Linked DNA regions of Homo sapiens. The protein of the gene in region 2 binds, or shares a complex with, the protein of the main gene of each other region. Each region holds a gene or a part of one and is shown on either strand. Other genes may lie near its edges. The genes, in order: SNRPD1, STRAP, GEMIN5 and GEMIN4.

What was found.
Region 1: STRAP (region 2) and SNRPD1 share a complex: the UniProt entries of both Homo sapiens proteins name them as parts of the SMN-Sm complex.
Region 3: STRAP (region 2) and GEMIN5 share a complex: the UniProt entries of both Homo sapiens proteins name them as parts of the SMN-Sm complex.
Region 4: STRAP (region 2) and GEMIN4 share a complex: the UniProt entries of both Homo sapiens proteins name them as parts of the SMN-Sm complex.

What each region holds. Positions count from the first base shown.
Region 1 is NC_000018.10:21,615,287-21,622,320, reverse strand, and holds part of SNRPD1 (small nuclear ribonucleoprotein Sm D1), read right to left. Parts: intron 1-7,034. UniProt on the Homo sapiens protein: Plays a role in pre-mRNA splicing as a core component of the spliceosomal U1, U2, U4 and U5 small nuclear ribonucleoproteins (snRNPs), the building blocks of the spliceosome.
Region 2 is NC_000012.12:15,892,370-15,899,403, reverse strand, and holds part of STRAP (serine-threonine kinase receptor-associated protein), read right to left. Parts: intron 5,358-7,034; coding exon 5,261-5,357; intron 4,046-5,260; coding exon 3,908-4,045; intron 1,523-3,907; coding exon 1,386-1,522; intron 1-1,385. UniProt on the Homo sapiens protein: The SMN complex catalyzes the assembly of small nuclear ribonucleoproteins (snRNPs), the building blocks of the spliceosome, and thereby plays an important role in the splicing of cellular pre-mRNAs.
Region 3 is NC_000005.10:154,935,202-154,942,286, forward strand, and holds the start of GEMIN5 (gem-associated protein 5), read right to left. Parts: upstream 3,011-7,085; 5' UTR 2,933-3,010; coding exon 2,767-2,932; intron 1,985-2,766; coding exon 1,824-1,984; intron 822-1,823; coding exon 640-821; intron 1-639. Other genes in the region: MRPL22 (large ribosomal subunit protein uL22m), read left to right, coding at 5,910-5,937, 6,016-6,064. UniProt on the Homo sapiens protein: The SMN complex catalyzes the assembly of small nuclear ribonucleoproteins (snRNPs), the building blocks of the spliceosome, and thereby plays an important role in the splicing of cellular pre-mRNAs.
Region 4 is NC_000017.11:749,265-756,363, reverse strand, and holds the start of GEMIN4 (gem-associated protein 4), read left to right. Parts: upstream 1-4,099; 5' UTR 4,100-4,221; coding exon 4,222-4,231; exon of another isoform or gene 4,232-4,713; intron 4,714-6,115; exon of another isoform or gene 6,116-6,367; intron 6,368-6,454; exon of another isoform or gene 6,455-6,528; coding exon of another isoform or gene 6,529-6,550; intron 6,551-7,099. UniProt on the Homo sapiens protein: The SMN complex catalyzes the assembly of small nuclear ribonucleoproteins (snRNPs), the building blocks of the spliceosome, and thereby plays an important role in the splicing of cellular pre-mRNAs.

The DNA.
Region 1 (7,034 bases), on a different chromosome or scaffold from region 2:
AAAAATACAAAAAATTAGCTGGGCATGGTGGCGGGCACCTGTAGTCCCAGCTACTCGGGAGGCTGAGGCAGGAGAATGGGGTGAACCTGGGAAGCAGAGCTCTCAGTGAGCCGAGATCACGCCACTGCACTCCAGCCTGGGCAACAGAGCGAGACTCCGTCTCAAAAAAAAAAAAAGAAATAAAGAATTACAGTCGGTAAAAAGATTACAAGCTTATTATAATGCCTATAAAGTAAAAATCTCCCTTCCTAACCCCCTGCACTGTGGGTATGTAGGAATATTATTCCAGATCACTTTATATGCATTCAGAAGGATATATACAGATTTCTTTTGACATAAATTGGGTCATATTTTATTCACGTCTATAACTTGTAGTCCTCGTTTAGCAGTTTATATTGGACATATTTCCATTTCAACATACAAAACATTCTAAGAACTGAGGCTGGGCGTGATGGCTCATGCCTATTTATAATCCCAGCACTTTGGGAGGCCGAGGAGGGCGGATCATCTGAGGTCAGGAATTCAAGACCAGCCTGGCCAACATGGTGAAACTCCATCTCTACAAAAACACAAAAATTAGCTGGGCAGGATGGCGTACGCCTGTAATCCTAGCTACTCAGAAGGCTGAGGCAGGAGAATCGCTTAAACCTGGGAGGCAGAGATTGCAGTCAGCCAAGATCGCACCACTGCACTCCAACCTGGGGACAGAGCAAGACTCCATCTCAAAAAAAATTAAAAAAAAATAAAAATAAATTAGCGAGGCAAGGTGGCGCACGCCTGTAATCCCAGCTACTTGGAAGGCTGGGGCATGAGAATCGCTTGAACCCGGGAGGCAGCATTTGCAGTGAGGTGAGATTGTTCCACTGTACCCCAGCCTGAGTGACAGGGCAAGACTCCATCTCACAAAAAGCCAAAATAACAAAATAACATTCTAAGAACTGGAAAGTATTCCACTATATGGAAATGTCAAAATTTATTACCGCCTGTTGACGGACATTACTTTGGTTCAATTTTTTCCCATTACAAACCCAATTATGCAAACCCTCACCAACACAAGTTGCTATAAGTCTTTCAAATTTTTGTCAATTTGATGGGGAAAAAATTTGCTTTTCCTTAATTACCTGTGAGATTGAATATCTTATCTTTTTTTTTTGACACAGAGTCTCGCTCTGTCACCCAGGCTGGAGTGTAGTGGCACAATCTCGGCTCACTGCAACCTCCGCCTCCTAGGTTCACGCCATTCTCCTGCCTCAGCCTCCCGAGTAGCTGGGATTACAGGCGCTCGCCACCACACCTGGCTAATTTTTTGTATTTTTTTTTTAGTAGAGACGGGGTTTCACCATGTTAACCACGATGGCCTTGATCTTCTGACCTCGTGATCCACCCGCCTCGGCCTCCCAAAGTGCTGGGATTACAGGCATGAGCCACCGCGCCCTGCCTGAATATCTTTTCATTAACATGGGAAAACTATTTCTTCCGTGAATTACCTGTTCACATTATTGACATTCTCAATTAGGTTGAGTTTTTCTTTTATTTTCTACTGGTTTGCCAGTCATTCAAGTTTGTTGTTTATGGTTTCTTTAGTCACACAAACTTTTTTCACTTTTATGTTTTGAATTTGTTCACCCTCCTGGGATACATAATTTACCTAAGAAAGGGTTTTTTCTATGCCAAGATTGTAAAAAAATAGTGTCTTATTTTCTTCTACTTTTAGAGTTCTAATCTACTTGGAATTGATCTTTTTTATGCAGTGTAAGGCACAAATCTGTCTTTATTACTTTCCCCAACTGAATAGCCAGTTGCCTTGATAATATATAATGAACAATCTATCCACTTCTCACTTCATCTAAATTTCCGTTCTCCCCTTTTTATAAAATTTTGCAGAGGATGAAAAGTTAAAGGGTTTACAAATATTGTCAATTGCCAGTGCAGTGGCTCATGCCTGTAATTTCACCACTTTGAGAGGCCAAGGTGGGATGATCACTTGAGGCCAGGAGTTCGAGACCTGCCTGGTCAACAAAGCAAGATCCTGTCTCTACAAAAATAAAAATAAAAAAAAAATTAGTTGGCCGGGTGCGGTAGCTCATGCCTGTAACCCCAGCACTTTGGGAGGCCAAGGTGGGCGGGTCACAATGTCAGGAGTTGGAGACCAGCTTGGCCAATATGGTGAAATCCCATCTCTACTAAAAATACAAAAAATTAGCCAGGTGTGGTGGTGCAGGTCTGTAATCCCAGCTACTCAGGAGGCTGAGGCAGCAGAATCGCTTGAACCTGGGAGGCAGAGGTTGCAGTGAGCCAAGATCATGCCATTGCACTGCAGCCTGGGTGACAGAGCAAGACTCCATCTCGAAAAAAATACAAATAAAAAAATTAGCTGGGCCTGTTGGCTCATGCCTGTAGTCTCAGCTCCTCGGAGTCTGAGGTGGGAGGATCGCTAGAGCCCAGGACTTTGAGGCTGCAATGAGCCATGACTGTGTCACTGCCCTGGAGCCTGTGTGGCAGAGCAAGACTCCGTCTTTTTTTAAAATTCTATTTTTTTTTGAGACGGAGTCTCGCTCTGTCACCCAGGCTGGAGTGCAGTGGCATGATCTTGGCTCAATGCAACCTCCACCTCTTGGGTTCAAGCAATTCTCCTGCCTCAGCCTCCCAAGTAGCTGGGACTACAGGCGCCTGCCACCACACCTGGCTGATTTTTGTATTTTTAGTAGAGACAGGGTTTCACCCGTTGGGCTGGTCTCGAACTTCTGACCTCAGGTGATCTGCCCACCTTGGCCTCCCAAAGTGCTGGGATTACAGGCGTAAGCCACCAGGCCTGGCCCTTTTTTTTAAAGACAGTCTTCGCCAGGTGTGGTGGCTCATCCCTGTAATCCCAGCACTTTGGGAGGGCGAGGCAGGCGGATCACCTGAGGTCAGAAGTTCGAGACCAGCCTGGCCAACATGGCGAAACCCCGTCTCTGCTAAAAATACAAAAAAATTAGCCAGACTTGGTGGCACTTGACTGTAATCCCAGCTACTGGGGAGGCTGAGGCAGGAGAATTGCTTGAGCCTGGGAGGCAGAGGTTGCAGTGAGCCAAGACTGCACCACTAAACTCCAGCCTGGACAATAGAGTGAGACTTTGTCAAAAAAACAAACGAAAAAAAATTGATCACACCATCTCAAAGTAAGTTGTAGGCATTACGACACTTCAGCATGCATTTTCTAATGACATTCTCCTATATAACCATAATCTCACAATCACATCTAAGAAAATGAACCCCACACTATCATACAATACACAGTTCATATAAAAACTTTTAGTCTATAATATATACTTTGAATTAACAGATCCTATCATCACACTAAATGGTACACATAAGATAACCTATTATCCTCCCGCACTAGACTATTCTTGAGGGTAGGGATCGTAAGCTCTATATCTAATCCTAGACTGTAATAGGCACTGAATAATGTTGGCTGAAATGTTTTAATGAATAAAGGGAAACCAACCTTAAAATGCCTTTTTTTAATTTCTTTTTTTTTAGTGGTATAGACAGCCATCACAAAAAAGAAATTACTTGGTCTGGGATATAACAAGCCTCAAACTTTAAGAAGACTCATGAGTTGAATCTCTTTTTATATATGACATCAAGAAAACGTTTTTCTCAACGAATTGGTAACACTTTATTTCACCAGAGAGTTATTCAGCTCCAAATTTAACAATCAATTATAACTAGAAAAGCCTAGAATTCTGAACTAATGGTTTCCTCCCATTATCAAGTTTTTGTTTTTATCTTTTACACGAATTTACTATCCCAGTTAGTAAGAACTTTTACTATAAAAGTTCTTCAAATCATTTTTGGAAGCAAAGAAGATAAATAAAAGGAAAAAAAAAACCTTATGTGGCCAGGCGCGGTGGCTCAGATACATAAAAGATACGTAAAAATAACTAAGTTGTAGAAAGCAATAAAGATATACAGAGGTTTTTTTTGTGTTTTTTTTTAAACAGAGGTTTTTAGTTTAGGTTTTTTCTGAGACTATGCCACCATGCCCGGCTAATATTTTTTAAATTTTTAAATTTTTTGTAGAGATGTGGTTTTGCCATGTTGCCTAGACTAGTCTTAAACTCCTGAGCTCAAGCAATCAGCCTGCCTTGGCCTCCCAAAGTGCTGGGATTACAAGCGTGAGCCACTGCACCCAGCTACACACAGGTTTTTTACTAAGAATATATTGTAGCATGTGGAGAGGGGAGTCAGGTATTAGGGGACTCCTAGTAAGAAGCCTGAAAAGTTGGAAATATGCAGCAAGAAGAAACAAAAGAAAAAATACAGCATAAGACACAGAGTAATTATAGATACAAAGATGGAGTCTTGTTCTGTTGCCCAGGCTGGAGTGCAATAGCGCAATCTCAATCTGAGCTCATTGCAACCTCCGTCTCCCGGGTTCAAGAGATTCTTGTGCCTCAGCCTCCCAAGTAGCTGAGACTACAGGCGCATGCCACCACACCCAGCTAATTTTTGTATTTTTAGTAGAGACGGGGTTTTACCATGTTGGCCCAAGTGATCTGCCTGCCTCGGCCTCACAAAGTGCTACGATGACAAGCATGAACCACCACGCCTGGCCGATGAAATGTTAAGTTCAATATTTTAGGTCCTATGAGTAGAGAGGAGTTAGGCAGGTTCCTTTCATGGAAAGCCTAAGCTCTGTTAAAGAATTCCTCTAGGAGAGCTACTGAAGGATTTTCATCAATGAAGTGGAGTACCAGGCTCATATTCACATTTAAAAGAGAACCTAGGGCCAATGTTCAGAAACAGATTTTAGAAAGACAAGAGACCAAAGTATAATCTCTAGGAAGACAAATTATGTGACTAGAGCAGTACATATACAAGTTAAAACTACAGTAATCGAGACATAAGGAACAACAAATAGATCAATGAAACAATACAAGCAAACAGATCTATTTCTGGTCCCACATTTACATGGTTGATTTAGCTGGGATTACAGGCACTCGCCACCACAACCAGCTAATTTTTGTATTTCTTTTTGTTTTAGTAGAGCCGGGGTTTCACCATGTTGGTCAGGCTGGTCTCGAACTCCTGACCTCAGGTGATCTGCCTGCCTTGGATTCCGAAAAGTGCTGGGATTACAGGCATGAGCCACCAAGCCTGGCCTTATATGGTTGATTTTTTACAAAGGTGCCAAAGACGTGTAACAGGCAAAGGAAAGTGTTTTCAACAAATGATGCTGGAATAACTGGAAATCCATACAGAAAAAAAACGAACCTGGACCACTAACACCATTTTCCAAAAGTAATCCAAGATGGATGATAGTCACTTGAGCCCAAGAGTTCCAGATATAGGCTGGGCACAGTGGCTCACGCCTGTAATCCCAGCACTTTGGGAGGCCAAGGCAGGCAGATCACAAGGTCAGGAGATCGAGACCAGCCTGGCCAAAGTGGTGAAATCCCATCTCTACTAAAATACAAAAAAAATAAGCCAGGCATAGTGGCACATGCCTGTAGTCCCAGCTACTCGGGAGGCTGAGGCAGGGGAATCACTTGAACCTGGGAGGTGGAGGTCGCAGTGAGCCGAGAGTGCGCCACTGCACTCCAGTCTGGCAACAGAGCAAGACTCCATCTCAAAAAAAAAAAAAAAGACTTAAAGAGTTCCAGATACATAAAAATCGATCAGTCAGGCATGGTGGCTCACGCCTGTAATCCCAGTACTTTGGGAGGCCAAGGCGGGTGGATCACAAGGTCAGGAGTTCGAGACCAGCCTGACCAACATGGTGAAACCCTGTCTCTACTAAAAATACAAAAATTAGCCAGGCGTGGTGGCAGGCGCCTGTAATCCCAGCTACTTGGGAGGCTGAGGTAGGAGAATCGCTTGAACCTGGAAGGCAGAGGTTGCAGTGAGCTGAGATCGCACAATTGTACTCCAGCCTGAGCTACAAGAAGAGAGACACTATTAAGGAAATGAACATGTAAACCACACACTGAGAGAAAACACATCTGACAAAGAACTGGTATCCAGGACACAGATCTAATTTCTACAACTCTGGGCTGGGCGCAGTGGCTCACGCCAGTAATCCCAGCACTTTGGGAGGCCAAGGCGGGCGGATCACGAGGTCAGGAGATTGAGAACATCCTGGCTAACACGGTGAAATCCCGTCTCTACTAAAAATACAAAAAATTAGCCGGGCGTGGTGGCAGGCGCCTGTAGTCCCAGCTACTCGGGAGGCTGAGGCAGGAGAATGGCGTGAACCCAGGAGGCGGAGCTTGCAGTGAACCAAGATCATGCCACTGCACTCCAGCCTGGGTGACAGAGTGAGACTCCGCCTCAAAAACAAACAAATAAGCAAAAAACCGACTAAACCCTAAGGAGATACCACTACATACCCACTAAAATGGCTAAAATTAAAGACTGAGCAAACAACACCACATACTGGTGAGGATGTGGACCAATTGTTATTCTAATATATTGTTAATGGAAGTGTAAAATGGTACAACCACTTTGGAAAATGGTCTGGAAATTTCTTAAAAAGCTAAACACATAACTATGTTACAGTCCATCAACTCCACTCGAGTATTTACCCACGAAAATTTGTTTCCCTCCAAAAACCTGAAGAATATTCAACGTAGTTGTAAACAAAATACATAACTTTTTATTTTATTTTCTTGTAATTTTTTAAAATACGGAGCTTTTTTTTTCTTTTTTCTTTTTTTTTGAGACGGAGTCTCGCTCTGTTGCCCAAGCTGGAGTGCAATGGCGTGATCTCAGCTCACTGCAATCTCCACCTCCTGGGTTCAAGGGATTCTCCTGCCTCAGCCTCCCTTGTAGCTGGGATTACAGGCACCTGCCACCATGCCCAGCTACTTTTTTGGTATTTTTAGTAGAGATGGGGTTTCACCATGTTGGTCAGGCTGGTTTCAAACTCCTGACCTCAGGTGATCTACCCGCCTCGGCCTCCCAAAGTGCTGGGATTACAGACGTGAGCCACTGCGCCCGGCCTAAAATACAGAACTTCCAAACACACAATGCACTAATATCCAGTAATA
Region 2 (7,034 bases):
ACAATGATCCATAAATATTTTAATCCATGGAACCTAATGAGAAAATGTATAGATTAGGAGCACTGTTATATTCAAGTAGTACCTTTAAGTATGAACCTTTCTCATTTACTTTCTAATGCCTCATCACCTTATTAGTTCTCAAAGCCCTTTACTAGACCAATGTTCCTATTCTGTCTCCCATCTGTGTCCCACCAGAGAATAGAAAAGTTGTAAGAGTACAAAGAACACAAGGTTTTGGAAAGAGAAAGGCTAGGCAGATCTGGTATTCACTGTGACTTCAGATCTTGGGCAAATAATTCAGTTCTCTCAATCTTGAAAAAGAATAAAATATGAAACCAAAAACATTCTAAAACTTTGAAAACTAGCATTAAATAAAAGTAACAGAAAAGAATATCTTATTTATAAATCACTTGTATTCAAGTAATAAAAACTGAACCATAAGCAATTAAAATAGATTCTACATGGTCCATCACCAAGGTTCCATTTGTGCAACCCAGATGCATCAATGTTCCCCAAGAAACAAAACGTAAAATTGTCTTTTGTTCTTTGGGTGTAATCTAGCAAGCTTCGTTCTTTGGTAAAGCAGGGCAGCTAGAAACAGACAAGAACAAGAAGAGACAGCTTATAGATAAAAATATATATTTATAAAAACTAAACATATTTTTGACCTAAAAGCAAAAACTATTTGGAAAGGCTAAAAGTAGATACTGAGAACCACATGTAACTATGTGAAATACCTGGTCCATCAGATAAATATACATTAACTTCAAATTAATCCCCATGCCTTTCCCTTTCCCTTACTAAGGACTGTTATCATGAAAATGAAAGCAAAACTCAAACTCCAAAACAGAATAAATAAAAAGCTGATAAAAATAACTATCCAATTCAGATTCCTAAAGGTATCCCTGTAATATGCTATACTGATTTTTCCCCCACACACTGTTCTTTACGGAGTCTTAGGAATTCCTAAGTTGGCAAAAAGGAAGACGGGCCAAGTAGATGGGGTTATACACCCACAACATAGTTCAGAAAGAACGGATCTCCTTGCATGTGTTTAGCATATGACTTTGACATAAGATTCCCCCCTCCCTCCCAGCCAATAAAGCCTAAAACTCACTGTACCATAATACATAACATCAGCATAATGATGAACTTTAGTTAAAAGGATAAATTTCTGCATACTTTGTTTACAGATCTATAAAAGCATCTGACCCAAATGGTTAAAACTCCTTTACTTTTTCACTTGTAAGCACCAAGCTTAAGTTAGCTGAAAAATTTACTTTCAACATATATATGTAACATATATATATATATAAATGAGGTGTTAATTACTGGGACTTAACATATGATAAAGGTAACCACATCACTGTAAGGGGACAACTCACCTAATTCTTCTCCACTATTATAATCATACTTATAAAGTTTAAAATCTTCACCGCCTGCAACAAGAAATTCTTTCTCAGGATGAAGAGATGCAGAATTGATGGTTGCAGGAGCTTCAAAGGATTTAATTGGGTCCAAACTGAAAAAAAATTTAAGTAGTATTTACAAATCTTGAATATGGTATAAATAACGAGTTACATTTGAACTGTTCTTAAATTCTGAAACCCAAGGAACAATTAAATACTCATTTACTCAAACATAAACACTGATGTAAAAAAAGCTGTTAGCAAAAAAAAAAAAAAAAAAATCAAATGGATACTATGCCCAAGTGGAGCTCATCTCAGCAATACAAAGACATCTTGATGGAGGGATATCCAGTTTATGCAGTGGATGTCTTCCCGGAAATGAGTGTGTTGGCTAATTAAAACAGTATGAATAATACACTGGGATTTTTGCTCTTAAATAAACTTCACCTGTATTGTTTCATTTTTCTACAACCACATATTATCTTTGTAAACAGAAAAAGTTTTCACAGTAGGTAATTAACATAAAGGATTATTTATATATTATTATTAATTGCTGAAGGTTTAAGCTCCTCAGCAAGATAAACTTTCTATGTCATAAAATATAAACTGCTGAAAACAGTTTCTACTATAAGGCAGTAAAAGACTAACAAAATTTGGGGCTATAGTTATATAATAAAAATCAATGCATAATAACAGCTTCATCTGAAATTCAATTACAGTTTGGACATTAGCTTTTTCAGTTTAACCCTAAAAATCATGAAAGGCCTCCAATACAAAACATTATAGTATCCCAGCTCCTAAATACTTCCCATCATCATATACTTTAAAGCATGTTAATTAAAGTTAGTCATGACTTATGCAGGATCACTACATAGCAACTTGCTGGCTCAAATGCTAGAATATTCAATGGTCCAGAAAATTTCTGCCACCAACATGGGATTTGCCTAACTGCAGGAGTGAGTGAAGAGCATTAATAAACCAATTGATGGCTCCAGGCCATAGTATTCTACTACTATCAGTTTACTGTATGTGTATAAACTCCTTGACATTGCTTAATTGCTCTCCTCCAATTTTACCGCCTTTTCTTTCTCCCAGTTAGCCCTTTAGACACAAGGTTAAGACACTGGTCAAATATCAAAGTGTAATGTGGTATAATCCTTATGGAAATCAATTAAGTGTCATGTATAACTAAGAACTTTAAACTCATTTCTAGCCTTTGAACTGATAATTCTACTTACAGGATCCTATCTACTGTAAAGAAACACTCAGAGATGTGCTAGAACATTCACCGTGGTGCTAAAACAGGGAAACTAACCCATAATTTAGTACAACCTATGATGCAAATACAGTGTATCAAGTAAAAATGTTTTCAAAGAAGTTTTAAATGGCTAACAATATTTTTAAACAAATCAAAATGGTATTCATTATGGTCCTAGTAATTAAAAAAAAAAACACAAATACTGTACACCCACATATATAACATAGAAAAATGGACTAGCAGAAAATATAACTACCATTATCACTCTTGCACCTATGGGTATAATATTGTGGGTACATTTTTTTCAATTATGTTATATATTCCAGTCTTTCTCCAAGAGTATTTACTACATTTAAAGTCGCAAAATTCAAATCTGTTTAAAAAATTCATTAAGTCTGCAAATACTCAGGAACAGAAATAAGATTATTCCTTCTCTAAAACTTTAAGGTGAAAATAAATAGTAGAATCAAGATCACACTGTTTTTTTGTTTTTTGTTTTTTTTGAGACAGAGTCTCACTCTGTTACCCAGGCTGGAATGCAGTGGTGTGACCACAGCTCAAAACAACCTCCACCTCCTGGGATTAAGCAATTCTCCTGCCTCAGCCTCCCAAGTAGCTGGGATTACAGGTACTCACCACCACACCCAGCTAATTTTTCTTCTCTTTGTATTTTTATTTTAGAGACGGGGTTTCACCATGTTGGCCAGGCTGGTCTCAATCCCCTAACCTCAAGTGGTCCGCCCACCTCAGCCTCCCAAGGTGCTAGGATTACAGACGTGAGCCACCACGCCCAGCCCACACTGGTTTTATATAGTAAAAAACATTAATGACAGCACCATTTCAGTAGTTTTTGCTTTTTTTTTTTTTTTTTTTTCAGAGGAGGTTTTGCTTTGTCATCCAGACTGGAGTGCAGTGTCAAGATCACAGCAAAATGCAGCCTCAACCTCCCAGGCTCCAGCAATAGAATACTCACCTCAGCCTCCCAAGCAGCTGGACTACAGGCGTGTGCCACCACACCCAGCTAATTTTATTTTTTGTAGAGATGGGGGTCTCACTGTGTTGCCCAGGCTGATCTCAAGCCATCCTCCCACCTCAGCTTCCCAAGGTACTGCGATTATAGGCATAAGCCACCACTCCTGGCCTCTTTACTTTTAAAAAAAGTAAATACCTTCCCATTTTTAAGTAGCCAAAATGTCTTTTGTTACCTAAAAAAGAAAATGAAAGTATTTCTTGGACATACCTTACTGCACTATGAAAAGCAATAGATCGTCCATAAGTTATAACCAAAATCTCTCCCTCAGGAATATATTCCATACTACTAACAGACATATTAAAATTTAGAGATTTCACTTCTGTCATAGTAGCATGATCCCAAAGTCTGCAAAATAAAGATAAAAATATGATGTTTACTCATGTAAGAAAAAAGTTTATAAATTCTAATTACATCTGCAGATTAGCCAACGAAAGAACAATCACAATTACAGAAAAACAACATTCATTCCAAGTCACAAATTACAGATGATTAAAAAAAATTCTGGGTTTCTATATACAATGTCAAATTATGCATGATAGCTTGTAAGTAAAATCAACTTTAATACCTACATACACTTCCCAATTTGGCAAAACTACATTATTAAGACAAGTTCTAATCTAGTCAATTTCAGCATTGCTATAAATAGTGGTTCTTACACTCTGTTTTTGTGAATCTAGTAATAGCTACACATCTTTCCAAAGAAATATACATCAGGTGTCAGCACACAAGATTTTGTATAGAATTTCAGAGGCTTCATGGTCCCTCCCTTTAACCATTCTGCCCACAGACCCAGGTTAAAAACACCTGCTTATAAGGTATCAGCAATTTAATTTTCTTCTGAATTTTGCTGTCTGTATACACAAGGTGAGCATCCCTTAATTGAAAATACTTGGGACCAGAAAAAAGTTGGATTTCAAACTTTTTCGGATTTTGGAATATTTGCATTAGACACTTACCAACTGAGAATTCCTAACCTGAAAATAGGAAATTCAAAATGCTCCAATGAGCATTTCCTTTAAGCATCAAGTCGGCACTCAAAGTCTCAGATTTCAGAGCGTTTCAAATTTCAGATTTTCAGGTTAGGGATACTCAACCTGTATTAGTAAATAGATAGCTCCAGATAAATGTGACCTGGGTGCAACTTAAATTTTAATGTTCAGAACATTTTTCACACATAATATTAAATGTATTTAAAATATAAGCTCTAAGGTAAAATATTTTGCAAATTTTAAGTTTGTTTTTCTTTTGAGACAGTCTAGCTCTGTCGCCCAGGCTAGAGTGCAATGGCACGATCTCGACTCACCGCAACCTCTGCCTCGCAGGTTCAAGTGATTCTCCTGCCTCGGCCTCCCGAGTAGCTGGGATTATAGGTGTGTGCCACCGCGCTTGGCTAAGTTTTGTAATTTTCATAGAGACAGTATTTCGCCATGTCGGCCAGGCTGGTCTAGTACTCCTGACCTCTAATGATCCACCCGGCTCGCCTCCCAAAGTGCTGAGATTATAGGCGTGAGCCACCATGCCCGGCCTTAAATTGTAAATTATTAAAGAAAAATTACTTACCGAACAGTTTTGTCATCAGCAGAAAGAATCTGTTTATCCTCACTGCACCACAGAGCTTTTTTTATACCAGAAGTATGACCACTAATTTCCTTAGGTTCTTGAGATAAAACAATTTAAAGTACATTTGTTAATATATGATTTTTTAAACTGAACAATATCGGAACAATTATATATTTTTAAAAACACACATTTTAAATTAGACTGCAACTTTTCAAAGCCCAGCCCAATTCAAACTTGATGTTTATATAGAATACAGTTAGTTTTTCTATATTGGAACATAAATTTATCTGCATGACAGGGACCCAAGGAACTACCATGCTTGCTATATGTAGCTGAGTGAATGCACCACTCACTCCCTCTAGGCTAAATTTCTGCACAACTGATAATATTCAAAAGCATTATTGTATAATAAATAAAAAGTATTTTATATTTATTATATGTATAATAAATATAAAAGCATTATTGTATAATTGTATAAGTATAATAAATATAAAAGCATTATTGTATAATATACAATATTTATTTGTACAATAATACAAATATTATTGTATAATATAAAAGCATTATTGTATAATTGTATAAGTATAATAAATATAAAAGCATTATTGTATAATAAATAAAAAGTATATATTTATTATATGTATAATAAAAAGAATTTTATATATAATAAAAAGTATATATTTATTATATGTATAATAAATAAAAAGTATTTTATATATAATAAAAAGTATTTATTATATTATTAATAAAATAATTAACGTGGCATAATTTAATAAGAACACGGACTCAGGAACAAAACAGTTGAATCTGATTGCAGTACTATGGCTAACTCTGGGACGTTTATCCAAGCAGCTATTGATAGTAAATAATGAGAAATAAGGGTTGGAAGGAAAAAAGGGAAATAGAAAGTGGGACAGCAATTCCCAAGAATGTTTCTACACTGTGAGGAAAACATAAAAAAAAAGGAAGGGAGCTTAAATCTGTAGGAGATTATCCTTTCGAAGAACTTCAAAAAACCCTCACTGCTGTCTCTAGGGGCAAAAGCAGACACTGGAGGCAATGCCATTCAACACTATTTTCACCTTTGGGCATGTTACTTAACTTTTTAACTTTATTTCCTCATCTGTAAAATGAGATAACAATGGTTACAAATGCGAATAGGGCTTAACAGATACCCGATACACAGTAAAACCTCATTTTATTTTCTGCTGCCAGCACAGCGAAAGAGCAACTTTCATAAAACAGCTTTGGGAAAGGTAAAGAGCATGAAAAATGTCAACCCAATCCCTGAACTACCTTGCTTTGACCCAATCCCTGAACTACCTTGCTTTGTTGAATGGGTTCATAGAAGAAGTGAGGTCAGAGTCCTTTGCTATGTTTTGGCATAGATTTATCAAAAAAGAAAGGAGAAAAAAACTTCTACATGCAATGGAGAATAAAAAAATCTGCAAATGCGCTTTGTTTCCTCACCTTAAAAATGTTTTCATAACAAATTACTGTAACATTAAAATGTAAAATATTTTAAAAAGTTCTCAGAAATGGAAGGTATCTCAAGAGAATAACCGCTTAATTTCCAATGTGGTTCTGACTCTCTTATTACTCTTTAAAATTTTATAGATTTATGACTACATAAATGTCCACATAATAAAATCTGAAAGATACCAAATATATAATAAAACAAAATTATGTTTGTCATGTTTTGGTAGCTAAGTATATATATGGTGAGGGAAATTATTAAAATATTATAAAATAAACATGTAGACTGGGGAAGACA
Region 3 (7,085 bases), on a different chromosome or scaffold from region 2:
TTTTACAACAAACTTTGTGAAAGAGTTGTTGTCTCTTTGTGTATCTCTATTGCCTTAGCCCCCAGTCTTTCAAATCCACTCCAATCAGAATTTCTCCTTCAACATTCTAGGGAAATTGCTTAAGTCTTCAAATTAGAGAAAATAGACATCTTTCAGTGAGAAGTACATGAAATGGTGAAAGAAACGGGGATGTATATTCAGGCAGCTCATGTGAAACAACCTTGGTGATCAACAAGGAAACAGATCCCAATGCCGCATCACTTTCCCAATCTAAAGGGAGCGCTCAGAACTAGAGAGACCCAGCAAAGTCATCTGACACCTGGGAGTTCATGTTGTATCAACGGGCAGTAGAGAAAGCGAAAAAGGTGAAAGAGGACATTTCCTACACGTAAAGGTTGATTGGAGGAGTTAGATCCGAAAAACGAAGAAAGTACAGTACCATGGAAACCAAGGAAACAAAAACGGAGTGGCAGAGACAGTAAAGACCTGGAGGAATAAATGATGCCAGGGGCTCAGGGGGAGTGGTTAACATCTGTAGATGGTTTCCTTTGAGGAATAAAAGGACAGAGAAGGTAAAGAAAATGCAAAACACGATCATAAACAAACAAAAATCATCAATACAGATGGCATAGTACTTACCCAATGGCTACTAAATCTTCATGATGAGGTGAACAAGTAAGACAGAAAATTGTCCTGGGTTCTATAAAGAGGTGCTGGCTGTCATTTCTGTTAAACCAGTAACAGAAAACTACTCCTTTTTCATCCCCAGATACTATTAAGTCCTTTACTCGAGGAGACCAATGTAATGTTGATATCGTATGCTTTAAAACAAAACAAAAATTTGTTATTGTCAATGCTGAAGTTCTACTTAATTTTTAACTTGTATCACAAACCAGCATAATGCTACATATACACATTAAAAGTAATTAATACGGCCGGGCGCGGTGGCTCACGCCTGTAATCCCAGCACTTTGGGAGGCCGAGGCGGGTGGATCACCAGGTAAGGAGATCGAGACCATCCTGGCTAACATGGTGAAACCCCATCTCTGCTAAAAACATAAAAAAATTAGCCGGGCGTGGTGGTGGGCTCCTGTAGTTCCAGCTACTCGAGAGGCTGAGGCAGGAGAATGGCGTCAACCCAGGAGGCGGAGCTTGCAGTGAGCCAAGATCCCGCCATTGCACTCCAGCCTGGGCGACAGAGCCAGACTCCGTCTCAAAAAAAAAAAAAAAAGTAATTAATACTTATTAGTAGTACTTCTATAGCAACACGATATTAACAAAATGGTGGGAAGATTTAGACTACTGGGGATCAAATAATCATTAAAAATTTTTTAAATAGCTTAATGCAAAGTTCTTATTAAGTAGGTCTTTTCCTTTGTTCTCTCAAAAGGCAGGTACATCAAGTAACTATCTAGCTTAGAAATGAGTTTCATTCACGCATTTACAGTCTATATCAGGAGTCCATTTGTATCAATAACCAGAGGGTAATTGTTTTAGACCTTGTGGGCCATACCATGCCTGTTGCAACTACTCAACTCTTGTAGCATGAAAGCAGTCATAGACAATACTTAAATGAATTAGTGTGGTTGTATTCTAATAAAACCTATTTGCAAAAACAGGCACAGAGCAGTTTGCCAACCTCTGGTTTGTATATATCTCCTTTCAAAAAAAGTTGAGACATCTTACAATATAGTTTCTTATCTAATTAATGAACACAATTACAAGTTACTTTGCACAGATGAGCTAGCAAAACTAGCTTGCAACAGAAGAACCCTCAGCACAGATAGATAAAAACGGTTTGAGAAACCAGTAAGCCATGGTACCTGATGGAGTGCATGTTCTGTCACAACTGTTTTTGTCTCTACATCCCATATTTTCACAGTCCCATCGTCGGAGCTGGTGGCACAGAGGTTGTACTGACCAGGGTGATGAGAAAATGTGAAGCCAGAGACCCTTTCGGTGTGTCCCACCAACTCTCCTATGACTTTAAGCAAAACCAGACGCTAGGTTAATCGAAGTGCTATCCAAGGTTCCTGGCAGAATCATACTGTTGTTGGATGACAAGTGAGCAGATGCTTTGGAGTTACTTAACCCATGGTATAACTGAAACACCGACGGACTTACACTCAGAATTCCCAAGTGCTGATATTGGCTGTGCCACGTGACTTCGAACAAGTCTCTGAGCCTCAGCTTCTCAACTGTGAAATGAATGTTGATATACCTTGCTCTGCTTAGTTCACAGACTGGAAAGCAGCTCAAATAATGTGAAAGTGACTCTTATTTAGATGTGGCCAGAATAAATCACCTGGCATGTCATATCCTAAGGCACAATCAAAGCCTAGTTTGGAGCCTGAAAGCATCTGGTTCAACCCATTCATCTTACAGTAAGGAATGCCACACGTTGCAGGATCTTGCTTAGGGCCTGCAGCTGTGGTTAGCCCCCAACCCCAGGAAGGCTCCCGGGGGGCTGGCGCGCACCAGGCTGGGCAGGGGAGCCATATAAATGGCCGAGACTATACAAGGCTAACTTTTCAGTAAGCAAGCGGCCCCACGTGGAAGCTCCAGGAGGCGGGACCGCTCGGCCACAGCATGGTGTAGCTCATTAGGAGACCAGAAGCAACTCAGCTTAGTGACTGTGGGCTGCCTCTCCTCCCAGCCTGGGCCTCAGTTTCCCTAGCTGTAGAAAACGGGGTGGAGTCGTCCACTCGGCGCCCCTGGGGAGCGTACAAAGGGCAGTAAGTCTCGGGCCCAAGGGTGGTGAGTTACCTCGAAACGGGGGTGTCCCTGGACTCTCGCCTGCGCCCGGGCCCACGCGGACAAGGAAGACGGAGGTCCGCGCGGCGAAGCCAAAGAGGCCCCCGGGCACGGCATCGCTGCAGCGGGCGCAGTACCAGTTGGGGGAGGGCGGCAGCGTCCGCGGCTCCTGCCCCATAACTACAAGCCGTCAGAGACAAGAGAAGCTGCCACAGCCGACCGCTCGTAGCCTCACGCCTTAGGTAGGGAGCGGGGCGGGGTGAACTCCGAGCCCCGCCTTCTCGGGCAGTCGCTACGGTGCGCGTCGAGGCCCAGCCAGCACCGCGCGTTGCGTTCCCGCTACCGCCGGGCTGGGAAGGGCGGGACCACGCGTGCTGCACTGGCCCTCAGTACCTAGCCCGCGGTAGGAGGTCCGCCCCAACCCTGGCTAGGGTCAGGTGCTGCCTGAGCACAGCCCCGAGGTTAAGCATTCTCACTTCCCACAGAAAGGCACAAAATTAGAGGATTAGACTAGTGGAACCACCGCCCCAGGCTACCAGTTTATTATTTGGAGCTGTTCAACCACTATCCCGTCCAACGTTTTTTGAGCGCTATGTGCCAGGGCACTTTGCTAGTTGTGGAGGTGTTTTAAAGATATGCACAAGAGGCCGGGTGCGGTGGCTCACGCCTGTAATCCCAGCACTTTGGGAGGCCGAGGCGGGAGGATCACGAGGTCAGGAGTTAAAAGACCGGCCTGGTCAGCATAGTGAAACCTCGTCTCTATTAAAAAACAAAAATAAAATAAAATAATAAAATAAGCCGGGTGTGGTGGCAGGCGCCTGTAATCCCAGCTGCTCGGGAGGCTGAGGCAGGAGAATCGCTTGAACCCGGGAGGCGGAAGTTGCTGTGAGCGGAGATCACGCCACTGCACTCTAGCCTGGCCACACAGCGAGACTCCATCTCAAAAAAAAAAAAAAAGTAAAATGCAACAATCCCTAGACAACAAATACTAGGGAGGCTGAGGCAGGAGAATCGCTTGAACCTGGGAGGCGGAAGTTGCAGTGAGCAGAGATTGCGCCACTGCACTCCAGCCTGGGCGACATTGCGAGACTCCATCTCAAATAAAAACAAAACAAAACAAAAAAAGATATGCACAAGAGGCCACTTAACAAAAATATTGTTGTACCTGAGTGAGTTAGAGAAAACGCCACACTTTGAGACGAATTAAGAGTCCATTTGTTTAGCCGGTGGCCAAGAGATGGCTAACGCTCAAAGTTCTCTCAGCCGGAAGAAGAGGCTAGATTTTCTTTTATACTTTGGTTTAGAAAGGGGAGGGGAGTCTAGTTAAAACAATTTTACAGAAATAAAGTAGGCAAAAAGTTAAAAGGATAAATGGTTACAGGAAAGTAAACAGTTCCAGGTGCAGGGGCTTTAAGACTATTTATTACAAGGTGATAGACTGGGGGCTTTGGGTGCTATCAATCAGACGAATTCCTGGGAATTGCGGATATTGCTCGCCACAGTATCTTATCAGTTAATTGCATCTTGGATGTGCTGGGAGTCAGCTTGCACAAGTTAAGTTCTTGAGGAAGGGGCTGCCAGTGAAAGAGCCAAGATGGAGTCTGTCTGGCTCTCTTAGCTAAGCAAGAGTCAATTCAAGTGGAAACAAGGCTAGGTGATCAGAGGAAAAAGGGAGAGTCTAAAAACAGGGTTAGTAAAAACAAGGTTGGGCATTACAATATGGAGTCCGGGAGACAGGCTGGTGTGAGCTGTGATCGAGCCACTGCACTCAAGCCTGGGCAATAGAGTGAGACCCTGTCTCAAAAAAACAAAACAAACAAAAATATGAAAGTACGAATCTGGAATTAAAAAGGGAAAGAACAGTTTCTGCAACTGGGTGGAAATTCTGGCTCTGGGTTCTGGGTACTCAAAGATGAAGGAGAAGCAAATGGAGTGACTCTTGATTTGCTTGATTGAGGGCCAGCTGTGTGAAGGAAGCTGTATGTGGTAAATGGTGTGGAAGAAAGTTTCCTTTCAACTCAAAAATGCTAAAATGCTCAGATTCTGCACTACTCGTGTGTTGCTTGTTTGCATTGGGTATCTGACATTCCTGCATAGGTAGCAAACCGCAATCTGAACTACCTGTTATTCTAATACAGAGGGGTCAAATACATATATTTGAAGGCGTCTAGGGGCACAAATTTGGAGGCACCTAGTCGTAGATTGATCACTGGTTTGCCAGTTGTTAGTTGAGAGACTTTAACATATCCTAAATATGTTTCCTCATTTGAAGAAGGAAAATGATAATCCATGCCTTGTTGGATTGCTGTGAGGAATAAATGAGATTTAGTGAAATACCTGCCTGACATAAGGCAGTAAATGCCAGATGAATATAAACTCATTCTTGAAGGTCAACCAGATTAGTAGGGATTAGGACAGCATACATCATATTTGAACTATTTGCTCTTTAAAAGAGATTTTAGGCTAGGTTTCGTGGCTCATACCTCTAATCCTAGCACTTTGGGAGGCCGAGGAGGGCAGATTGCTTGAGCCCAGGAATTCGAGATCAGCCTGGGCAATTTGGGGAAACTCCTTATCTATAAAAAATACAAAAATTAGCCGGGCGTGGTGATGTGCGCCTGTAGTCACAGCTACTTGGGAGGCTGAGGTAAGAGGGTGGCTTGAGCCCGGGGTCGAGGCTGCAGTGAGACTAGGTCATTGCTACCACACTCCAGCCTAAGCGAGAGAGAGACCCTGTTTCAATAAAATGAAATAAAATAGCTTTCACACTATTTCAACTGATCTTTACAACAAGCTTGTGCCCTAAGGTTAGTCATTTCTGATAAGAAAACTGAGGACCACCGGATTAGGTGGCTTGTTCACGGATTCTGTTCCCCTACTCCTTTCTAGTTTGTGAGTTGGGACTTTAGTTTTTCTGAATCCAGGTGAATTTTCGGAAGCCCACGTGCTTTCGGCCTTTATTAATTAATTCATTCCCAAGCCAGGTTCGCCTGACCACACCTCGAGCGCCGGCCCAGTGCTTGCGATCTTCGTGACGGCACCTGGGGTGTAAGTACTGCTTGTGGGAGAGCCCCACAGGAAATCCAGAGTATTGCGCATGCGTGCTGTCCAGAAGGCGCTTGAACTCGGCGGCTTCCGTAGCGGGAGGGCGAAAGATGGCGGCGGCAGTACTGGGACAGTTGGGTAAGGATTTCTTAGTGGTTAAGCGACAGAAGGGAGTCGAGATGGAATCTGAGTTGACGGCTTGTGTTGATGTTGCAGGTGCGTTATGGATACATAACCTGAGGAGCCGGGGGAAGCTGGCCTTGGGGTGAGTCTCTCGCTTCGGAGTTTCGGAAGGGCCCAAGGCATCTTTAGTATTCTGCCAGTTGGTAACTGAGCGCCTCCGTGCCTAACTGTGTTTTAGGCTCTGGGGTTACTGAGGCGAATGAGACAGCCCGAGTCTCTGCTTTGTCACTCTATTTTTTCTCCACCTTATTGCATAAACTGTACAGGGATCAGGATTACCCATAACCCAAGGGCGATTGTAAATGCGATTTCCGAACGTCTACTGTGATCTTTCTGGACAAGGTTAGACTATTCCATCTCCATATGGAAGCGTCCAACTTTTCAAGTTACCTCTCTGATTACTTGCTTACATGGGCAGGGACCGTGTTGTGGACAACTCTGCTTTACGTCGTACCTGACATTGTGTTTAGCGGTTTATATGCTTTAACTCACTCTCATAACATTCTACGAGTAGGTTCTGCTATACCCGTTTTTCAGACAAGGAAATTGAAGTCCCCAAACGTAAAATAACTTGCCTAAGGCCACTCAGTTGTAGGAAATTTTGAAGCTTTATACCAGAGCATTCTGTAGCCTTAGGACAAAAGCATTCATTAAAGGTTAGGGTAAGTAGTCGCTGTATTTCTCCCCAAAATAAAAAATCGGTATTTGAAAATTGATAATCTGATTGTAAATTTTCTGGTCTGTCCATTTGTTAGCATTGATTTTGGTTTAGTTCATAGGCTTTGCAGACAGATGAGTTGTATATGAATCCATTTTTTAACTGTGATCTTGGAAAAGTTACTTATTCTTAATAAGCTTCAGTTATCACTTTTATGATATGAGCGTTATGTTAGTACCTATCTCTTAGGATTTAAAAAATTTTTTAATTTTTATTTATTTATTTTTTTAGATGAAGTGTTGCTATGTTGCCCATGCTGGTCTCAAACTTAAGGGCTGAAACAATTCTCTTGCCTCAGCCTCCTGAAGTACTGGGATTACAGGCACATGCCATCTATGTAGCTCTAGTAGATTTTAAAAAGGAAATTCAAACAAGATAATGCATA
Region 4 (7,099 bases), on a different chromosome or scaffold from region 2:
CGTTATCAGTACCAGCTCACATTCCTTTCCTTATTTGGAAAGAGGACTAACTTTCTAGCTCATTACAGACACCCCTTCCCCTTCCTCTCCGCTTTCTTTTACGGGCCCACCCTATCTAAAAAAATCAAATGTTTAGCCAAGCGCGATTAGTTTAGATTGTACGACCTGACCCCGGCCAATGGGGAAAGGGTAGAGGGGCAGGACTTGTGTCAGGAACAAAGGCTCTCGTGCCCCTTTGTTCAGGTGTGCTCTCATGACAACTGGCCAAGGAGGCACCCCTCTGCACAGAAGTAAAATTGCTTTGCTAAGAATCCTTTGTTCGAGTGTTCTATTTCCTTAGGATTTTGAGCATTATTCCTAACAAGTATTTAAAAGGGAAAGAGCAGGAAGGGAGGGAAGAGGGAAAGGAAAAATACAGGAGGGTAGGTAGGGAGATAAGTGGTTACATTCTTATTAGGCTTTGATCAGCGCTCACCAAATCTACATGTCACAGTGAAAGGAGGGGGTAGAGGAACAGTCAGTTTTGCATTCAGCTCAGTAAATCTACATTTAGCACTCACCAAATCTACATGTTACAGTGAAAGGAGCAGGCAGAGGAACAGTCAGTTTTGCATTCAGCTCAGTAAATCTACATTTAGTGCTCACCAAATCTACATGTTACAGTGAAAGGAGCGGGCAGAGGAACAGTTACGCATTCAGCTCAGTAAGTCTACATTTAGCACTCACCAAATCTACATGTTACAGTGAAAGGAGCAGGCAGAGGAACAGTCAGTTTTGCATTCAGCTCAGTAAATCTACATTTAGCGCTCACCAACTCTACATGTTACAGTGAAAGGAGCGGGCAGAGGAACACTCAGTTATGCATTCAGCTCAGTAAATCTACATTTAGTGCTCACCAAATCTACATGTTACAGTGAAAGGAGCGGGCAGACGAACAGTCAGTTATGCATTCAGCTCAGTAAATCTACATTTAGCGCTCACCAAATCTACATGTTACAGTGAAAGGAGCGGGCAGAGGAACAGTTATGCATTCAGCTCAGTAAATCTACATTTACTGCTCACCAAATCTATATGTTACAGTGAAAGCAGCAGGCAGAGGAACAGTTATGCATTCAGCTCAGTACATCTATGTTTTGTCTCGGCTGGTGAGGGATGGTTTCTGGTGTTGTCTTTGTCCCTTACCTATGAAGATAAGCTGTTAATTTATATTGTCAGGTGAGGGAGACCACCTGGGGAGATATGTGGCCTTCTGTCTTGTAGCTTATCTGTTTAGGAACAAAAGGAAGTTTTTTGCATATTCCATGACTCAATTTCCAAGCTTAACTTTTCCTTTTCGCTTAGTGAATTTGGTCCCAAGATTTTATTTTCCTTTCACAGTATACCCCATGCCCATCAATCCCATTCCCCCTGCATCCTATAGGTAACCTCTTCTTAAGCAAATACAAATAGATAAATCCTTATTTTCTGTTTTTTTTTTTAAAACTTTATTTTACTGTTACTTTCTGCTGTCCTAATTATGGCACATTTTTACTTTCTAGGTTCTGTGATTTACAGAGTGGTCTGGCTATGTGGACAGCTTCTAAATTGTCACCACATTTTGGAGCAAGATGTATTATTTTTACAATTAATTTACATTTAACATGAATCATGATCCTAAGTGCATCAGAATGTCTTCATAACATTCGCCAAAGAAGAGAGGGCAGCACTGCTGTTCTACAGTGTGGCTCTCACCTGGTCCACAGTTACCAGAAATAGTTCTTTCGTTGCTGTGATGTCCTGGGTGGGCTTCATTCTTTAGTAATGTACTTTGTCTACAGCAACTTCCTGCAACTATGTGAACAGATCTTGAAGACACACAGTGAGGTTTGGTTTCCTTTGTCCTCTTAAGTCTTTATGGTTGTTGCTTCTATTGTTTATTGGTCCCAGTGAGAACTGCAGCTGACCTGATGTCATGATCTGTGAAGATAGTTTCTATTAAAGAAGAAGTACCAGGAAATCCCATATGCCACCGTAGACCTGCCTTTCTGGATACCATTTACTACTCCATACTCCAGCCGCCATGCACAATGGTTGTGTATGAGGCTCCTGTGATCATTAACAGGAGTAGAAGCTGGGCTCAGACACTCTGGCACTTGCATAGGTCAAGGGGTGTGTTGTGCTCTTGCAACAAATCCCACATAGACATCCATATGCATATTGTCCCACCGTCCCCTAAGCAGAAACCAGGGTTAAGTACAGAATAGTCCCGGGAACATTTTGGTTGCCCGGCCTTAGGTGAGCCTTTCTGGGGCTGGGATTTTGACACCATCTGCTCCATTGTTTCTAAACTGCTGTGTTCTGGCGCATCAATTGTTTCATCACATTATCATCACGGAAAGCTTGGTCTCCCTCAAAACATGAACCGGGTAGGCCCTGTGTTCCAGTGGGGGCTTTTGGACTTGACTTTAGTGTTTAGGAGGACAGAGTCCCTCTCCCCTCTGTGGTGCTGGGGTATTAGTAAATCAGCCTTGAAGAGATAAGGGGCTGGGGCCTCAACCTCCCAAGAGGCTGTCACTGGAGAATGGTCTCCTGCCCTCAGATCTTGGGCATTTCCACAGCACACTGTCCCCCTCGTCCTTCCAAATACCTACATACGCTCTTGTAATAGGAGAGCTGGGAACTCCACCCAAAACCATACAAAAAGTTAGTCTGTGTATTTGGACGCCTCCCCAGCACTCAGTCACCGAGTTTCTCCTTTCCAACAGCAGTCACTCTCATGCAGTTTAAGTGATTTATTGATGTCTCGGCTAAGCTTGCGACAGTTTCAGGACATTTCAGCCATCAAGGTCTAAGAAGCCCTTTCCATTCCCGAGGAGCCCTCAGCCAGCCTCCTTCTTCCTCATCTCCTCACTCTGGCCGCGTAGCCCCTCATGGCGTCCATCTTGGACGCCCCTTTGTTCGCGCTCCACGCCCCCCACTTCCTTCTTCGTCAGCTCCTCCACTTTGGCCGCGTAGCCCCTCATGGCGTCCATCTTGGACGCCCCTTTGTTCGCGCTCCACGCCCCCCACTTCCTTCTTCGTCAGCTCCTCCACTTTGGCCGCGTAGCCCCTCATGGCGTCCATCTTGGACGCCCCTTTGTTCGCGCTCCACGCCCCCCACTTCCTTCTTCGTCAGCTCCTCCACTTTGGCCGCGTAGCCCCTCATGGCGTCCATCTTGCACGCCCCTTTGTTCGCGCTCCACGCCCCCCACTTCCTTCTTCGTCAGCTCCTCCACTTTGGCCGCGTAGCCCCTCATGGCGTCCATCTTGGACGCCCCTTTTTTCGCGCTCCAAGCCTCCCACTTGGCCCTGGCTCTCACGTCTGAGGCCGGAGGGCCGGGGATGTCGCAGTCGCCCTGGGTGGCCTGTTTGTACAAGCCGTAGACCAGCAGCTTCTCCTGATCGCTCACGGGACCCTTCAGCTGCTTGAGGGCCGCGCAGCTCGAACTCCACTTGGCACATGGGGTGGTGGAGGCGGTCCCTGGTGCTAGAAGCTGGAGGTGGAGAGTTGGAGTGGCTGTTACTACTCGATCTCAGGGGGAGGAGACAGGCACGCGATGTTTGTGTTTTGTCAAGCACAGATTGCAAGCTCGGGGTCCAGCGTAAACCCCACCATGTTTGGGCTCACACGGCGCATTTTCTGGGGAGGACCAGCCGTCAAAAAGCGTCTAGGATCCGGAACGCTGCTGTCTGGAGGGGGCGGCGCGGCAGGAGCGCGTTGAGGGACTGTATGTGGCGCGAGCTGGGCGGGTGGGAGTGGAAGCCTCGCGTGGTGCGGCCGCGCTGGGTGGTGGGCGTCCCGGGGGAGGCGCTCGGTGGGGGTGAACTGTGTGCGGGGCACGCCCGGGGTTACCGGGTGAGGGTGAATGCGGGGCCGGGGAATCATGAGCCCGACCCGCTGGGACCCCGGAAGAGGGGCCGGGCAGGGGACGGTGCGGAGGGGTCTAGTGAGCGACGTCCGGGTACCTGAGGGCTGGTGGGAGGGCTCTGCCGGAAGGCGGCGCTGTGCGCTTGGCGCGCTCGTTCGTGAGGACTGCGCGTGCGCGGCGGAGGCTGTGGGCGGGGCCGGGCGGAGGTTGTGAGCAGGCCTAAGCGCGGCCGCCGTGGCTCCTGCGTCTCCCATCGTGCCGTGCGTCCCGCGCCGCGTTCGAGTTCTCGGAGGGGAGGGGGCGTTAGCCCCGCGCAGCCGCCGGCGTCGCCGCCATGGACCTAGGTGGGTGCCGCGGCTCCCCGGCCCCGGGCTGCGTCCAGCAATGCGCCACCAGAGCGGTGCTGCCCCGTCGCGTCTCCTCCTGTCGCGCACGCTCGCGCGGGCCCGGACCGAAACGTCCCCCGCGTCGGGGCGGGTCTAGGGGTCCCGGGGTGGCCTTGGCGGGGGGTGGTCCGGGTCCCGCCGCGCGTTGGGCCGCGTCTTGCCGCCTCCGGCCCCCTGCGCTTGAAAACACGGAGCAGACGTGAAGTTAGAGCCCTTGGAAGCGCCCGGGGCTCGCGCACGTGCTTTGGGAAACGGGCTCCCTCCGAGCACCCCTGGGCGCCCCGACGGCCTCATTTCCTGAACGGCAGCTGCGTTCTTGAGCAAGTGTCTTAACGCTCCAAGTGTCTTACGCTCATGACGTTTCCTCATCGACAGAGCGGGGAGAATGGAAGTGTGTCTCCCCACTGAGTTTTGGGCGACTTTGCATTGAGATCGCCGAGGTACAGTGTCCCTTGTGGGGTTGCGCGGGTCACACCCGCGGTGGGGGCGGCTGCGCTCCTGAGGTATCACTTTGTGAACCTGCGTGCGTCCGGATTCAGAATCTTACAGGCAAGGTCTGGGAGGGAGCCCATAGGAACTAGATGCTCCCTGCTAAATCTTGGCACACGCTGCTAAGACCAGGAGGCTGTTCTGGGAGAGCTGGGGGTGAGGCACCCCGAGATGTGTCAGCAGTAGTAGGCTGGGGGGAAATGGTCTGGTCCCCGCCCCCAGACAGCTTTTCAGGAGCGGAATGGCAGAGCTCTAAGGGCTTGGAGCCCCTCAGCCGTAATTGCTTCCCAGCCCCACCACATTCAGGCTGGGACACCCTCAGCAAATCGTTTCTGCGCCTCAGTGTCCTTATCTCTAGAGCAGGAATACTAGTCCTCAAAAGGTGATTGTGAATAGAAGAGATCTTACCTGTGTACCACCTAGCACAGTGTCTGGCATGGAGTAGGTGCTTAATAAACCTAAGAAGCGGGCTGTGGCAAGCACTAGTTAACCATCCATGATAGAGTACCGGAGTATTTTCCAGCTAGTAACCGCCCTGGGACTTACTACTTCAAACTGTGCGTACTTAATGCGCCTGGAAGGCAGGTGTTTAGGGCCAAACATCTGCTCAACTAAGCCAATAATGCAATAAAATTAAATTTACAGCGTCAGGAGGGACTATATTTTGGGACCCTGGGAGAGCCTCCTGAGCCAGAAAGAAGGGCGGTAACCCCCAGGGAGGTCCCCTTCGCAGCGTAACCCTCCCTGGGAGTCGGTCTCAGCCACTGTGAGATGAGATGGATTGCCTCCACAAGTGGGTTACATAGTGCTGAGCCCTTGGCCTGCTGCCGCTCCCATAAATGGTGGGAGGGGTAAGATGGTCCTTAGTCTCCTGGAGTCAGTGTTTTCTCTGCTGGTGTCTGGCCTGTGAAAATGGGGAATATGAGCTCTTGGGGGCATGACAGACTGAGGAAGGAGTAGCATCTCTCACTCCTGGGAAAGGGGAGATGACTCAGGAATGAGGAATAGGGAGCAGTGTTTGCACCCTCGTTTTAGTTTCTGGGCCAAAGGAAACATACCTGATAAAGACCTACATCCTTTGATGTTTCTGAGCTGGGGGAGGCAAAGAATAGTGACAAGATTCTGGTCTTGCCAACCATGAAAAGGTTTGGGGAAACCAACATTTACTGAGCACCTAATTAGACTCTGTAACTGGATTCTTACTGTAGCTCTATCTCATTTATCCATCATAGCGTCCCGGGGAGATGGGGTCAGGAGATAGCAGTGCCAACCCACTAGCAAGGGCTTGACTGGTATATATCACATGATCCCCAAAGGCATAACATGAAGTCTGTATTATCCCCACATATGCAGAAGGAAGGCTTGGAGAAGCAATCTGACCAAGATCACATCCCTTTTTTTTTTTCGGAGATGGAGGGGGAGTCTCACTGTGTTACCCCAGCTAGTCTTGAACTCCTGGCCTCAGGGATCCACCTGCCTCAGCCCCCCAAGTAGCTGGGATTACAAGTGCTAGCCACTGAACCTGGCCAGAATCACATCATTTTTAAATGGCTGAACTAGGATTTAAACCCATGTCTGATTAAACATCCCAAGATGTTTTCCATGGTAAGTCTGTGTCAATCGTTAGTTCCCTGAAGGAAGGCTTAATCTAGCACAGTATTTTCTGTATCTACTCCCTGGTTTCTCCCACAGAGCTAGGGCCATGAGTACCTTGTTTTTGACTGGAAGGAGCTGTGGGGTGGACCGTTTCCCTGAAAGCTAGAAGAATGTTTGAAGCCTGTTCCCAAGGCAAGTTTATAAAGAGTGAAGGCAGGGCTTGTCTGATTCCTTCTGTGCCCATTGCTCTGTGGCTATGTGATTGCTCTGTGCCCATTACCCTGTGGCTGTGTGACTGCTGCTGTGCCCGTTACCCTGTGGCTGCGTGATTGCTGCTGTGCCCATTACCCTGTGGCTGTGTGATTGCTCTGTGCCCATTATCCTGTGGCCGTGTGATCGCTCTGTGCCCATTACCCTGTAGCCGTGTGATTGCTGCTGTGCCCATTACCTTGTGGCTGTGTGATTGCTGCTGTGCCCATTATCCTGTGGCTGTGTGATTGCTCTGTGCCCATTATCCTGTGGCTGTGTGATTGCTCTGTGCCCATTATCCTGTAGCCGTGTGATTGCTTCTGTGCCCATTACCCTGTGGCTGTGTGATTGCTGCTGTGCCCATTATCCTGTGGCCGTGTGATTGCTGCTGTGCCCATTACCCTGTGGCCGTGTGATTGCTCTGTGCCCATTACCCTGTGGCCGTGTGACTGCTGCTGTGCCCATTACCCTGTGGCCGTGTGATTGCTGCTG